Linked DNA regions of Homo sapiens. The protein of the gene in region 1 purifies or fractionates together with the protein of each later gene. This does not show direct contact. Each region holds a gene or a part of one and is shown in the gene's direction. Other genes may lie near its edges.

Evidence for each region.
Region 2: the proteins of WNK2 (region 1) and SGK1 purify together in Homo sapiens (affinity purification with western blotting, with the first as the bait; one study listed by BioGRID). This does not show direct contact.

What each region holds. Positions count from the first base shown.
Region 1 is NC_000009.12:93,316,460-93,320,273, forward strand, and holds part of WNK2 (serine/threonine-protein kinase WNK2), read left to right. Parts: intron 1-1,060; coding exon 1,061-1,172; intron 1,173-1,413; coding exon of another isoform or gene 1,414-1,615; exon of another isoform or gene 1,616-2,749; intron 2,750-3,814. UniProt on the Homo sapiens protein: Serine/threonine-protein kinase component of the WNK2-SPAK/OSR1 kinase cascade, which plays an important role in the regulation of electrolyte homeostasis, cell signaling, survival, and proliferation.
Region 2 is NC_000006.12:134,262,304-134,266,117, reverse strand, and holds part of SGK1 (serine/threonine-protein kinase Sgk1), read left to right. Parts: intron 1-3,814. UniProt on the Homo sapiens protein: Serine/threonine-protein kinase which is involved in the regulation of a wide variety of ion channels, membrane transporters, cellular enzymes, transcription factors, neuronal excitability, cell growth, proliferation, survival, migration and apoptosis.

The sequences.
Region 1 (3,814 bases):
TGTTATACCTCTTTCATTAAATTTATCCCTAGGTAGCTGATGTTTTGGAATGCTATTATAAATGTTATTTTTCTTTAAATCTCCTTTTCCAGCTTCCTGTTGCTAGAATATAAAACTATGGTTGACTTTCGTACCCCATATCCTGCAATTGTGCTAAATTTGCTATTAGTTCTAGAAATTGGTTTGTCCATTCTTGTGGGTTTTCTGCATACACAGTCTTGTCATCTGCATGAGGCCAGTTCTCCTTCTCTCTGTCCAGTCTGTGCGGTTGACTCCTTTTCCTCCCCGCCTGGAGATCCCCGTGGTGTCGACTGGAAGCATGGAGGCACCTTGGGGAGGTATTGGGCATTTTGTCGTGGGCAGGGGCTCAGCTGTCGGTTCCATAGAGGACCTTCCAGATAAGGAGGCCCCTCCAGCCCCTGACTGCCGAGCTTGATTTCCAGGAAGGGTTGTGGAAGTCACCGAGTGCCCTCCATGCACCTGTGAAGAGTGCCCAGTGGGGCCCTCCCTGGAGTGGAGAGGAGTGACTCCCCGTGGCCAGCAGCCTTGCCTTCCTGGGGCACACCCCGCATACAGCTTCTCCCCGGGCTGGGACAGTGGAAGGGCTGCCTTGCCATCACCTCCCTGCACACTTGCTTTGCCCAGGTCCTGGGGCTCTGCTCCTGCCAGCTCCTGGGTGGTTCATGCTCCTGTGAGGGCACTGACCAGCCAAGCAGGAGGGCTTTGTGGTGGCTGAGTAGAGGCATGTGGGGTCACTCATGCGCCCTCAGGGTCCAGGCCCCACTAGTCCTCCTCCAAGTCCCATTTTGGCTGGTGGACACCCAGGTGTGTGGCCTAGAGGCTATCAGGCTGCAGCTTGGGGAAGCAAACAAGGGAGGGTGATGGTTCCTGGCCCCACACCATCATTCTGGTGTCAGCCCTGAGAGGGTGCCTGTCACAGCAGGTTCCAGGACTGCTGCCTCCTGAGGATGGAGAAACTGTGGCACCCTGGGGGCCACTAAGGGAGGCCAGCTGATTGCAGCCACGTGTACCTTCCTCTTCTCGTCTCTGTGTTTTGTAGATGACCGCACCTCGAGCAGGAGTGGGGATGCCACGTCTGCCCCCAGCGCCCGGCCCTCTGTCCACCACGGTCATTCCCGGAGCCGCCCCGACCCTGTCCGTGCCCACACCAGGTACTGCCCTCTCCAACCTCCCAACCCCACCCTGTGCGCTGCCTCTGGGTCAGTACAGAGGCCTGCTCCCAGCTCCAGTGTCCTGGGGGCCCTGGGCAGGCCAGGTGGGCCAGCTGGGGGCACAGGGCAGCTGGAACACCCCCCAGGTGCCCGTGCTGCCAGTCTTCTTGCAGCCACCTGTGGTCAGCATGCCTGGCCCCCGGCTGCGGATCACGTAGCCTTCTGCCCTGTCCCTTGCCAGATGGCGCCCTCGGAACCGCCCGGAGAAACCAGGTGTGGTTTGGCCTCCGAGTCCCCCCCACCGCCTGCTGTGGGCACAGCACTCAGCCGCGAGGGGGACAGCGGGTGGGCAGCAAGACTGCTTCCTTTGCGGCTTCAGACCCTGTTCGCTCCTAGGTTCCTGTGGTCCACGCGCCGTCTCCACACCCACTTCCTATACTTGAGTTGATGGTTAGAACCTTGTCGTCACCCTGCAGAAGTACAGTGCCTTGAATGCCAGCTTTTCCGTTCCCTGATGAAAAGATATGTTAAAAAAAATTATCGGAAAAGGTTTCATTTGCAATTGGCTTGTGCATTGATAATCTTTATTTACTGTTTTAAGTTGCAGAGATGTGAATGGTTTACAAATCTGAAGCTGAAGTTCAATCTTTGGTTTTCTGTTGTAAATGCCTTTTACAAACATTGAATTAGCTACCTTAAGTATTGAAGAGCTTCCATTGCTAGGTGAGCCCTGCTTTGTCCTCAGTAGAGTGCCGGTTCCCTGGGCTCATCCAGGGGCTGAGAGACGGCGGGACGCTGGGGCAGGGCACACTGGCGGAGCTGCTTGCTCAGTAGGGAATGTCAGTTGTTGCGCTGGGCCATGAGAAATCCGCCAGAAAACGTTAGGTGAGCAGACATGCCCCCCATGCCAGTGGGCTGCTGTGAGTGAGGATAAGGTGTGTGTTGGGCATAGAAACCCTGGCTGCCCGCCCACCCTGTGGAGACAAGTGCAGCTCCTCCAGCTGGAGAGGCTGCCCTCTCTCCTGCCCACTTCCCTCCCTTCTCCATGATTTCCATGGAGACCTGTGGCTCTGCTCACCCCTGGCATGCAGACCGCTCTCCCGTCCAGCCCTAAGCCTGCTCTGCGGAGGGCGGGGTCATTCTTCTCCTGGAGATTTCAGTGGGACTCGTCCCCAGTGGGCACAACACAGCCCTTGGTGGGAGGGGAAGGCCCCAGCCTCCTCCACCTCCCACTGGAAAGCAGACTGCTTGGGACTGCCCAGCTGTGAATTGTATAGTTTCTGTACTTATTAGAACTGGGTAAATTATTTTGGTTCAAATCTATTATTCCATCAATTCAGTTAGAATTGAATTTTCTAGGTGATTATGCAGAATCTTCTGCCAGGGCACGATGCTGTCGTAAGAGATTTCTGTTCTCTGTACTGGGCCCCCTTGCCCTGTTCCTTGAGTGAAGTGGGGGCTGCCCTCACCTGTCCCCCTTGCCTGTGAATCCCTTCCTTGTACATGGTGGTCAGTGGCACGGAATCCCCAATAGATTGTATATCTGAAGGAGAAAAATAAACACTTTTGCTCGAAAACAGTGTGAAACAACATCTTTTTCTTACCCTCTATCCATATAAAATCCAAAGCAACCAGCCTCCTAGGGAGCACAGGAGTTGGGAGCCAGTTCTGGGCTCAGCTGCATCCACACCTCTGGAGGAGGGTGCTGAGGGGCTGCGGGTGCTGGGCTGGGCTGTCCCCGGCAGGGGTCTGAGAGCAGGGCATCTGGCAGGGCTGCCTGGCCCCCAACACTGCCCCCGCCAGCTGTGGCCTGGGCCCCGAGCACGGTCAGCTCTGCTGGTCGGGTTAGCTGGCTGGGCTGCCCACCACTCTGCACCTGATTACACTTAGCAGTGCCACGGGCTGTGACCATGATGGAGGGAGCCAGCCTCCTGGTCAGCGAGACACACCTGCAGCCCCTGTCTCCAGGAGGCTTGGTTTGCATTACTTGCTGCAGCCCCTGGGGCCACCCTCTTTGCTCCAGATGGGCCGAGCTCAGGGGAAGTGGGAGCTCCTCAGATGAGCTTGGACTTGTTGAGAGGAGGACTTGGGGCTGGGGTTGCCCATGGATCATGCAAGGGGCAGTGGCTTTTCTGGTAGGCACAGGGGCCTTAGGGAAGGTGGCCATCCAGGGTGGGGCCTCATCCTGTGGGACTCAGCGCATGGTGGCAGCCAGCCCCCCAGCATCCCACTAAAGACAGCCTCGAGCTGACTGTGGTCCCTCCTGCGTGTGCATTGCAGGCCTCACTGTGAGCAAGCTGAGGGTCCCAGTGTCTCCTGCCCGGTCCACTGTGGGGGCTGCCTTGGCTGTGGGGCCACCTCCTCAGAGAGCTGCAGTGCCAGCCTTCGAGCTTCTGCATGGAGGGAGGAGGAACACTCATCCCAGAGCCTCCTGTTTTGGGTGTTGGAGGGCAGCTCACTCCCCAGATGCTCCAGACGGTACAGGAGCAGAGCGTCTGTTTGGGTTTCTGGCAGCCGTTCAGTGTGCTGACTGGTCACACAAAGAAGGGTGGTCCAGGTGACAGAGGCCGCCAGGGCTGTGCTGAGGACAAGACCATCTACACAGGGCGTGGGTCATGGCAGAGCTGGCGCAGCCTTCCCGT
Region 2 (3,814 bases), on another chromosome or scaffold:
CAGCCACTCAGGAGGCTGAGGGAGGAGAATCACTTGAACCAGGGAGGAGGAGGCTGCAGTGAGCTGAGATCGCGCCACTGCACTCCAGCCTGGGTGACAATCAGAGACTCCATCTTAATAAATATAAATAAATGAATAAAGAAATAAATAAATAAAGCAATTAAAAGACACTTGTGGCTGGATGTGGTAGCTCACGCCTGTAATCCCAGCATTTTGGGAGGCTGAGCTGGGAGGGGAACACTTGAGCCCAGGAGTTCTAACCAGCTTGGCTTGACCAACATGGTGAGACTCTATTTTTTAAAGAAATGTATATATATATATACATTTATGATTCTGATAAAATATTATTCTTTTAAAAGTTAAAGTACGAAGAGTTGTAAAAACAGATAAAACACCCATGATACTAACAATAAACACAGCAGTTTCTATTTTGCCTCTTAACTCTCCTACTTTATGTCTATAGTGTTTCTGTGTATATATATATGTATATATATATATGTATATATATAAAATATATATGTATATGTATATATGTATATGTATAAATATATATGTATATATATAAAATATATATGTGTATATAAAATATATATGTATATATAAAATATATATGTGTATATATATATTTTTTTTGTTTGTTTGTTTGTTTGTTTTTTGAGACAGAGTTTTCACTCTTGTTGCCCAGGCTGGAGTGCAATGGCATGATCTTGGTTCACCACAACCTCCACCTCCAGGGGTCAAGCGATTCTCCTGCCTCAGCCTCCTGAGTAGCTGGGATTACAGGTGCCCAACACTACACCCAGCTAATTTTTGTGTTTTTTGTAGAGATGGGGTTTTGTCATGTTGACCAGGCTGGTCTTGAACTCCTGGGCTCAGGTGATCTGCCTGCCTCGACCTCCCAAAGTGCTGGGATTACAGGCGTGAGCCACTGCACCCGGCCTATAGTTAGTACATATGTTTTTACATTTGTGATTATAGCAATTAAACAGTTTTGTATTTGGCTTTTCTCATATAATTATGTTCTAAATATTTTTCATATTTTCACAGTCTTCATAATACTTAATTTTAGTGATAGCAAAATATTCTATCAAGTAATATAATAAATTGCTTAAACATTATTGCTATTGCAATTTTAGTTTATCCTCAGTGTTTTTTAAAAAGTTAATTGCAGGCTGGGCATGGTGGCTCACACTTGTAATCCCAACACTTTGGGAAGCCAAAGTGGGAGGATCGCCTAAGGCCAGGAGTTTAAGACCAGTCTGGGCAATATAGCAAGACCCTGTCTCTACAAAACAATTTAAAAATAATTAGCCAGTCATGGTGGTGCACGCCTGTAGTCCCAGCTACTTGGGAGGGCTGAGGTGGGAGGATCGCTTGAGCCTAGGAGGTTAAGGCTGCAGTGAGCTGTCATCGTGCCAATGCACTCCAATCTGGGGAACAAAACAAGACCCTTTAACAACAACAACAACAAAAATAATAATAATAATAATTGTAGCATCACTAACTAAAATTCAGTACTGTGATTTTACTTCTTTGTCCTTTTGCTATAGGCTAATTTCACTAATTGGTTGAATATAAAAGAATCCTCAGGAGTTTTGAAGAGCATGAAAGTGAAATAGTAAATCAAAATAAATTTCAAGCACCAGTGACCATAAGTCTTAACAACACTTCAGTGCTTCTTAGAAAATTGCATGCTCATGGCCAGGCGCAGTGGCTCAAGCCTGTAATACCAGCACTATGGGAGGCCAAGGTGGGCGGATCATGAGGTCAGGAGATCGAGACCATCCTGGCTAACACGATGAAACCCGGTCTCTACTAAAAATACAAAAAATTAGCCAGGCATGGTGGCAGGTGCCTGTAGTCCCAGCTACTCGGGAGGCTGAGGCAGGAGAATGGCGTGAACCCAGGAGGCAGAGCTTGCAGTGAGCTGAGATCGCGCCACTGTACTCCAGCCAGGGGCAACAGAGCGAGACTCTGTCTCAAAAAAAAAAAAAAAGAAAGAAAAGAAAATTGCATGTTTATAAACTCTGGATTCAAGGTGCCTGGATCCCGCCTTTACTCCATAACAACACTGTGCCCTGGGGAAATTTGCTTCACATCTCTATGCGTTTGTTTTTCCATCTGTATAATGGGATTGAAAATAGTACCTTTCTTATAAAACTTTTCTGAGGACTAATTAATTAATTTTTTATTCTTCATTTACTTATTTATTTTCTTTTGTAGAGATGGGGTTTTGCTATGTTGGCTAGGCTGGTCCCAAAATCCTGGCCTCAAGTGACCTGCCTGCCTTAGCCTCCCAAAGTTTAAAGTGCTGGGATTACAGGTGTGAGCCACCTCACCCTGCCTGTTCTGAGGATTAAAAACTATACACATCAAACACTTTAAAAAGTGCCTTGATTTTTGAAATGCTGTATAAATACCATGCCTGTTAATATTAGAATAGCTTTATACTTCTTTCTGTATCTTATAGGGATTTTACAAGCAAGCAAGACAAGTGGTGAGTTTTAGAACTTTAAAAACAAACTTGAGCTAATTTCTTAGCCAGAAGCAATTTCTTTTATAATCAAAGTTGTGCAGTAGTATATATGGGCCGGATTCAGTGGCTCATGCCTGTAATCCCAACACTTTGGGAGGCGGGAGGATCACTTGAGCCCAGGAGTTTGATACCAGCCTGCGCAACTTAGTGAGACCTCATCTCTACAAAAAAAAAAAAAAATTAGTAGTGTGATGGTGCGAGCCTGTGGTCTCAGCTACTCCAGAGGCTGAGGTGAGAGGATTGCTTGAGCCCAGCAGTTCAAGACTGCAGTGAGCCATGATTAGGCCACTGCATTCCATCCTGGGTGACAGAGGAAGATCCTGTCTCAATAACAATAATAATAGTGAATATGTATTTGCTTAGCAATGGATTAGATTGTAAACTATGAGATTAGTATTTTCCCTTGTAAGAATAACTAGTAATTCACCTTAGAAATGTGTGAACTAAATTTCTGTCATCATAATCATAATAATAAGGGTCAAAGTAAAATAGTCACTATCTATTGGGCACCAAACATGTGCCAGGCAAAGTACTTGAACATTGTAAAACATGGTAGCATTTTCACAGCTTGGGAGGAAATATTATTACCTGAATCTTACAAATGAGGAGACAGGCTGGGCACAGTGACTTATACCTGTGATCCCAACACTTTAAGAGGCAAAAGGATCTTTTTCTTTAAAAAAAAAAAAAAGTTATTTTTTTCGTAGAGACAAAGTTTCGCTATTTTGCCCAGGCTGGTCTCAAACTCCTGGGCTAAAGCAGTCCTCCTGCCTTGGCCTCCCAAAGTGCTATTTAGATATAAACCATCTCGCCTGGCCAGGGTAATTGTTTTTGTTTGTTTTTGGGTTTTGAGGGTTTGTTGTTGTTGTGTTGTTGTTGTGGTTGGAGACAGTCTTGCTCTGTCACCCAGGCTGGAGTGCAGCGGGGCTATCTCAGCTCACTGCAACCTCCGCTTCCCAGGTTCAAGCGATTCTCCCAAGCAGCTGAGATTATAGGCGTGTACCACCAGGCCTGGCTAATTTTGGTATTTTTAGTAGAGATGGGGTTTCATCATGTTGGCAGGCTGGTCCAGGAGGATCTTTTAACACCAAGACCAGCCTGGGCAACAGAGTGAAACCCCCCTATCTCTAAAAAGAAAAAAATTCTAACCCCACTGGAAGCAGGAGGAAAAAGAAAAGAAAAAAATAATGTGAAAAAAAAATGCGGAGACAGACTCAGCAAGATGAAATGACCAGCCATGTAATGCATACTCTAGGAAAGAGACTGAACAGCATTGAC